Homo sapiens: one gene and its partner. The protein of the gene in region 1 purifies or fractionates together with the protein of each later gene. This does not show direct contact. Each region holds a gene or a part of one and is shown in the gene's direction. Other genes may lie near its edges.

What was found.
Region 2: the proteins of TTC9 (region 1) and MBNL1 fractionate together in Homo sapiens (co-fractionation; one large-scale study listed by BioGRID). This does not show direct contact.

The regions. Positions count from the first base shown.
Region 1 is NC_000014.9:70,672,656-70,676,134, forward strand, and holds the end of TTC9 (tetratricopeptide repeat protein 9A), read left to right. Parts: 3' UTR 1-2,711; downstream 2,712-3,479.
Region 2 is NC_000003.12:152,267,429-152,271,728, forward strand, and holds the start of MBNL1 (muscleblind-like protein 1), read left to right. Parts: upstream 1-1,500; 5' UTR 1,501-1,664; exon of another isoform or gene 1,665-2,350; intron 2,351-4,300. UniProt on the Homo sapiens protein: Mediates pre-mRNA alternative splicing regulation. Acts either as activator or repressor of splicing on specific pre-mRNA targets. Inhibits cardiac troponin-T (TNNT2) pre-mRNA exon inclusion but induces insulin receptor (IR) pre-mRNA exon inclusion in muscle.

The DNA.
Region 1 (3,479 bases):
ATACAGATGCAATAATGTGAATAGTTAGGATTTATTAAATGCATTATCTTCAGATCTTTACATGTATAATCTCATTTCTTTCATGCAGTTACTCTGGGATACTGTTCCCATTTGATGGGTAAGAATATTGAAAACCAGAAAAATTAATTATCCCAAGGTTGCATGGCCTTTAGTGGCATAGCTAGGATTTGAACCAGGCCTGCCTGACTCCAGAGCTCTGGCTAGTATCTATGCTATACTTAGTTGCCTCTCTGTAAGTATAATATTGGGCAATTATAACCATTTGAGAACAGGACAATATGTATTAACCTGAAAAGTGTTCATGATGTCAGTGATAGTACATGGCCTCCTTATGTATTTACTCAAGGGCCCCAAAAGACCAGAGGCCAGAATCCCTAGTAGTCAGAGCAGTGACAGGTCAGAAAAAGGCAGCTGAGGTCCAATAGTTATGTCTGTGTATTGCTCATTCTACTTACTGATGGAGCCAGCATGTATCTCAACAACTCACCTAGCATTCATCACCCATCCCCAGCATTGGGAAAGGGTCACAATTAAGACCGAAAGGAAACACAAAGTTAAATATGGGTTAATTATGTAAGCAGATGCCCCACCACGGCAGGATCCAATCACAGCCGAGGGGCCCAGAAGAGAGCAGCGTAAGTTATATTCACATAGTTCCCCAAAGGCTTTCAACGGGGGCTACAGGAAGGTGCTAGAAATATTGAGGGGCCTGCCATTACTCACCTAGAGCTCACTCTCTGGAGAAGAGGAAAAGGAAGAAGCTATTTCAGCTGCCACATTCTCCCCAATCCCTACTATATTATGCTGTCTTTCCTCTTCCTCCTAGCTGGCTTTACATGACCCTAACCCAAAACTACCCTATGGCCCCACACGGGAATGTGTTCAAACGCCCCGACCCCCACCCCCACCCCCATTCCCAAGCCTCCAACTTAGAACGTTTGTGATTTGGCAGATGGTTTGTTAGGATCTGAAGGATGAAGAGAAGGGTAGAGGTCACCTGGAGAATGAGTTCAAACTGCCAGGGTCTTCCCTTGGTCTTTGTGCGTCAGGAAGGACTCCGAGTAATTATTCCCTATGCAGAGACAGGAGAGAGGTCTTGTTTACATGAGTGTGCTGGGGCAGGGCTGGACAATCCAGGATATGATTGTAGCCATCCCATGTAGAAAGATCAAAAACCAGAACGAAATGAAGACAGCCTCTCAGAACCTCATAGAACAAGCGTCCAGGTCATCTGCTTGTTTGGTGACTTAGATATACAGGCTTACTGGAACTCCATTCACTGTGACCTGAAGTTAAATAATCCCAAAGAGAAAAAGCTACCTGGGGTATTGGTTGATGTTTGGGGTGATAGGGCTGAATTTTCTGTGCATTTGTCCAACAAAGGCTTTAGAGCACAAAACCAGGTTCATTCTCCCTACCAAATCTTCAGCTTCCTTCTCCTCATCCCTCCCCAAAACAAGAACTGTGATTTAATTCCGTACGTTGCGGATGTCACTGCTGACCTATGTAGCTGGAGTACTAATCAGGCATCTGACCTGCACTGTCATCCCCTGCCTGGACTTTTGCGATGGACTCTTTGGGGGAAAAACTAACGCTTTTTAATTATTGTGAAAGCATCATGTGTGTATTGTAGAAGTTTTAGGAAAAAAAGGACAAAATCCAATCCATAAGCTTACCACCCAAGACAAACGTGTATTCTTTTGAATATACCTTTTAGTTCTTTTTGGTGTAAATGTACACACGCACACACAGTTGTGGATTTTTTTAAACAAAAACTGGATACACTGAATATACTCTTTAATAACTTTTCAAGTGTGTATTTATATTTTAGAATATGTAATCCTACACAGATACAAAATTCAAAAAGTACAAACTGCTCTGTAGTCAGAAGTAAATCTTCTCCCTACCCCGTCTGCCAGCATCTAGTTTCCCTCTAATTTATTTTGCATCCTAGTGGAGATGCTTACACATTGTCAAACATATGTATATATTCTTTTATCACACACAAATGGCAGCATATTGGACACTTTTTGTTTTTTGCTCCTTCTGTTCCTTCACTTAATAATATCACGAACATTTTCGGCATATCAAACTTTCTCAACAGCATCTTCATTGTATGGATGGACCCTTTTTTTATCATCAATCCTCAAATAGTGATTATTTCATTTGTTCCCAATCTTCATTGTAAATAGTGTTGCAACTGACATTCTTGTAGCTAAATTTTGCACATGTCTATAACGATTTCCTTAGGATAAACTCCAAGAAGAGACTTGCTTGGCTATTTTTAAGAATTTTGATACATGTTGCCAACCACCCTCCAGAAAGTTTGTACCAAAACGCTCTCCTATTTGGATCCTAGAGAGTACCCTGTTTCCTGCACCCTAACACTAGGTATCATCACTTATCAAATCTTTCCCAATTTGGTAGCTGGGATAATAGTATGTCAATGTTATTTTAACTTTCTTTGATTCTTCGCGAATAACATTTTCATATGCTTATTGACCATTTGTACTTCTTTCTTTGTGAATTTTCTATTTATTTGATATTGGTATGTTTATTATCAATTTGTAATTTTATTAAGAATATTATTTTTGTCAAGAAATGCTGCAAATATGCTTTCCAAGTGCTTTGCTTTCAAATTTTGTTTATGGTGCTTTTTGACATACATAAATTCTTAATTCTGCAATTAATTCGTTCCTCTGTTGCCAGCTTCTCCTGCCTACAGTTCATTCTCTTATTTCTATCAGAGTGACCCTTCCAAAACACAGTTTGACCATGTCACTCCACAACTTCAGCACTTTGGGAGGCCAAGGTGGGTGGATCACAAGGTCAGGAGTTCAAGACCAGCCTGGCCAAGATGGTGAAACCCCATCTCTTCTAAAATACACACCCACAAAAAAATCAGCTGGGTGCGGTGGCAGGCACCTGTAATCCCAGCTACTCAGGAGGCTGAGGCAGGAGAATCACTTGAACCTGGGCATCAGAGGTTGCAGTGAGCCGAGATCACGCCACTCCACTCCAGCCTGGGCAACAGAGTGAGACTCTGTCTCAGGAAAAATAAAATCTTTAGTAGCGCCTCGTCACTTCTAGGATAAAGTCCAAACTCCTTAACAACACACACGGTCTTTCATATTTTGTCTCCACTGATCTTTCCAGCCTCACTTCCTGGTCCTCTTCCCAAAGTATCCTACATTCCACTGCTGTGCAGCTTCTTTTGCCGCCCTGAGCCATTGTGCTGGGTCTCTGGGCCTTTCCACGCTATTCCTTCCCTCTGCCTCATCGGCTATTCCTTAGCCCTTCAGTCCTCTCTACCTTGCTAACTCCTATAGGCCTTCATTCAGGATCACTGCTAGAAAGCCTTCCTTGGTCCTTTAGTCTGAATTCTTAAAGCAACACAAGCCTACCTCAGCCTAGCTTTTGCTACAACAAATTAGAGTTTCTAGTTTACATTCATCTCC
Region 2 (4,300 bases), on another chromosome or scaffold:
AGTGTAGGGACTGTCTTATCCATTCTTGCATCACTGGCATAGTAGGCACTAAATGTAGTTGCTGAATGCTTAATAAGAGGAATGGAAGTCTTCGTAGCTTGGGGTAGATACTAATGGGCAGATAGAAAGTTCCCATCCCTGTTCTCTGAGAAAGTGTCAGTGTTCTTTTAGTTTGCTTAAACTGTGTGGGTACTTGAGTCCTTTTAAACGATTAACGCTGGGAAGAGGCACCATTTAATTAATTAATTTGTTCTGGAAGGGATCAGTGTACAATTTTAACTCAGTGCTTTGTGGATCTAGCTAAAGGTCAAGAACTAAAGTCGGCTATTAGTGCCTCTGGAAGATATTTCTGCACTTTAGCACCTTTCTGATGTTTTTCCTTCACCTCGAGCTGGCCTCACTCTCTTCAACAAAACCGAACCTGCAGGAAGAATGTTGTACCATATCCAGCATTTTTGTCCCAACAAACATGGGACAAACGTTTTTCACTAGAATCATCCTTGAACAAGTTATCCGAATTCCTTACATTCAAAGGAAATCCTGCCCCCAGTCTCCAAAACTTCATCACATCACAGACGTTCAGGATTCTTTCCATTCAAAGCAAAGCCAAGTTACATCTTATAGCACCCAGTGAATTATGATATGGGGCTGCGGTTTATTTGCTCTGGCGACAATATGGCTTACTTGCCGTGGAATATCCCGGTATTTCAGAAGTAACATATTATTTTTAAAGAGGGAGCTTTGCTTTCTCTAAATCACATGGTGCAAAGTTGGGAATACAGTGGCCTGTAAATTACAAATATTATTTACAAACTAGAAGGAAAGCTGACATGTGTTTGTGCCTGTGTGACAGTTTCACTAAGGAATTCCAAAACTGTGGATAGCCTGTTACTTGAGAAAAATACACGGTGGCAGTCTTGCAGATGTTTTTCCCGCCTGTTAGCCCTCCAGGTTCAAAAACTGTTTGGTGCATTTTAAGGCGGCAGTCTCACCAGATCGCAGGATTCTAGTCTAATTGGCTTCTAACCTTCAATCTAACCTTGCCGGCTTCCTTGCAAAGCCCGGTGCAAGGGCCTCTTTCAAAATGAACCCACTGGTGTGCCTAGCAGTCGGTAGAAGAAGCGGGAGGGCGTCCGGTCTGCACGCCCGCCGCGAGGTTACAATGCTGAACGCATGAGATGGAAGATACCAACGGGAGGCCGAGGGGATCCACGGCGCCCGCGCGGGCTCCGGCTTCCTCCTGCTCTCGGCGCCGCTGGGCGACCGCCCATGACCCGCTCTTGCGGGCTCTGTCCGGTTGACAGGCGACCCTGTGGCCCGGGGAAGCGCGGGAGGGCGCCGGCGGAAAGTTGAAGAGCGTTTTTCTCGCCGCCGCGTGCATTAGGAGCTCGACGAGTCCGCCCTGGGCTTCCTGGTGGGGCTGGGCGGGCGGGGGAGGGGCCGCGCAGCAGCAGCGGAAGCCAGACCTCGGCGATAAGAGGCTGCACAGCGACATGCAACAGTCTTTTCACTGCAGCTGAATGAGTTGTGGCGCCCACAATGCTCCCATGACAAGGAGCTGACAAGTTCCATTTTCCGTCGCGGGCATCTTGGAATCATGACTCCCACAATGCCTTGGGCACTTGGTCGACAGTGGGGCCGCCTCTGAAAAAAAAATGTGAGAGGTAAGTTTCCATTTTCACAGTTTCCCCGCGCCGCTTCATTGTTCGGACTCCGGCGGGTCTGCCCGTGGCTGAAGGAGGAAGTGCGAGGAGGTGCTCGCCGGCCGCGGTTCTCCCGGGCAGGGGCGGGCCGCTCGCGGTAGTTGGTTTCGCGTCCCTCAGCACCTCCTGCCCGGGGGAAGGCGGGAGGGTGAGCCGCAGCCGCTCCTGCGCCCTTCCCTGCCGCGGGCTCTGCGGACGCTGTCACGGCACAGCCCGCGCACGGCTTGGCAGCCCAGCGGGACCCAGGGAGAAACAGGGGGGCGAGAAGAGAAACAGGTGCGTGCAAGTGTACTCACAACTTAATGACCTTTGTCGGGGGAAGGTGTGAGTCCCTCTGAGTCGAGCGGCGCGCGGGTCTTCCCGGCGGCTCCCGCATCCCTGGCCCCGGGGCTGCCATCCCGCCCGGTTTTCATCTGGGCCAAATATGTGCACGCAAAGGTTAATTCTCTGCTTGCTACCCATAAATTACGCATGACATGTTTAGCTGGGCTGCCTTATATGGAGAGTGCTGTATTTCAGGCCAGTTTGCCTTTTGCCAAGTTTACAGGGCGGAAGACGCCCTGTAGGAGAGGGCTGCCTCCTCCTTTTCTTCTTCTTCTTTTTTTTTTCATCGTTTTGTAGTGCGTCACTCAAAAACTGTAAGAAAAGTAAGTATAGAAGCTCTTTGGGTGGAGCCGCAGTTGGTTGAATTGCTTTCATGAAAGGTTGAAAAGAATGAAAAGTAGTTAGTACTTGGGTTCTGGTTTTTAGACAAAAGCAGGACAAATATGTAGCCACCCCCCAACTTTTTTTTTTTTTTTTAAACGGAGCCGGAATCTGTTATTGGTAGTAATGTGTCATGTGAGAATACTTTGATTCCAGAGCCTGTAACACGAGCAGGTATATGGTGGCGCTTATGCCTTCCCCTCGCACAGCACTTTACAACTACAGGGGTGTTGCTGCCAGAGTAATATTGTATTCTTAAGGCTCTCTGGGGCCGGGAGAGTATGCGGCTGTTGGGATTCTGGGGTGTATTTCCGTGGAGTATGTCTCCCCAGGATTAAAGTTAAGAAGCTGCCGGAAAGGTTGTTGCCGCTGACTTCACTTTGTGTGCCCACCAGCACAGGCACAAGTCATAGCAGATGGATGGCAAACTCTGCCATATACTCTGAGGAGTTTCTTAAATTAATACGCTAGGAGAGAAGTCATAATTAATGCTTTTAGACTTTCGAGCCCTCTGCAGCGTGCTTTGAAATACTACACCGGTGGACACTATGTCCCTTCCTCCTGGGTTTGAACACAGTGTCTGTTTATACACAGAGGGTGTTTAGTACCTAAGTATTCTATACCAGCACAAGAGAGCCACTCCACAGTTATCTCTCTGTGTGGATTCCTAAGTGTGTTGGTGTTTCTCCTTGCTGTTGAGATAAAATATTATCACCCAGAGAGAAAATGAAAGTTCAACGACTGTAAAATTTATCCCAGGAATGTGCAGTTCAATACTTAGAATGTCTTAGATGTAGTTATAGATAGAGGCACTGAATAAGTTATTTTGTAGCCTGAGAATGCACATCGCTGTCACTTGTATCTTGCTTTCTTAAAGTTGGTGACAACTAAGGCTAAACTTCTTTAGAAAACCTAATGTTCTAGTTTTTATCTGTTTTGTGTATTTGCATGGGAGTTACTTTATTATTATTATTATATTGTTAGGTCTTCTTTGAAAATGTAGGCATAGCTTTTTTAGTCTTATTTGTTTAATGGGGGGTTTCCTTGCTGAAGACTACAAAAGTTGCCTTTTGTGTTTTAAGGAACAGGTTGGGTCAGCAACAGAAAACCTGTTCATCTATAATTATAGTGTCACTTAAGACATAATAATCAGATTTCATTATTACTAAGAGACTCAGAAAAACCTCACATATGCCTAGTTTAATTTTTTTCCTTATGTAACTGTGAACAAATTTGTGTGTAGATACACATCAAGTGTGGTACTCTGCGCAGTCATGCCAAAGAGAAACTGAAGTGTTATATGGTTTGAGATATTATTGCTTGTGTTTACATTTCCACATTTGAGGCAAAGTTAGACTCCAAGTTGAATTCATTAAATTTTGATTCCAACATTCTGTTCTTCCTTTGGGCACAGAATTCCTATGAAATGAAACACTGGGTTTTGTTCCAGAACAAGAACAGACTAACCCAAAATTTCTCCTGGGGGAAAAAAAAAGAGTAAAATTATATTTCTCATTGAAAATTGTATTTCTCATTGAGGAAGGGTGTGTTACTTTATTATATAAAATGCCTTATCTTCATTATAAGAAAAAAATGCCCTTGCATTTGTCACTGTTGCCATACATTAGGCCTGTATTTGATAGATCTATATGGAAACAGAGAATAAATAATCTTGCTGCACCTTCTGGCTTTCTGCTTGGTGATAGATGTGCGGATTAGAGAACATCTCAGGTCTTGGTTAGGAGAAGCTGAAAAGAATAGGTGATTGGGTTTTTAAAATTCTGTATGCAAAGGCATTAGGGTGGGTAGTAGATATGAGAGTCAAAAGAGTGGAGGAAAGAAGTGAAATAGGTTCACGAAGTGATTGGCCCAAAATAAAATCCCATCAACCA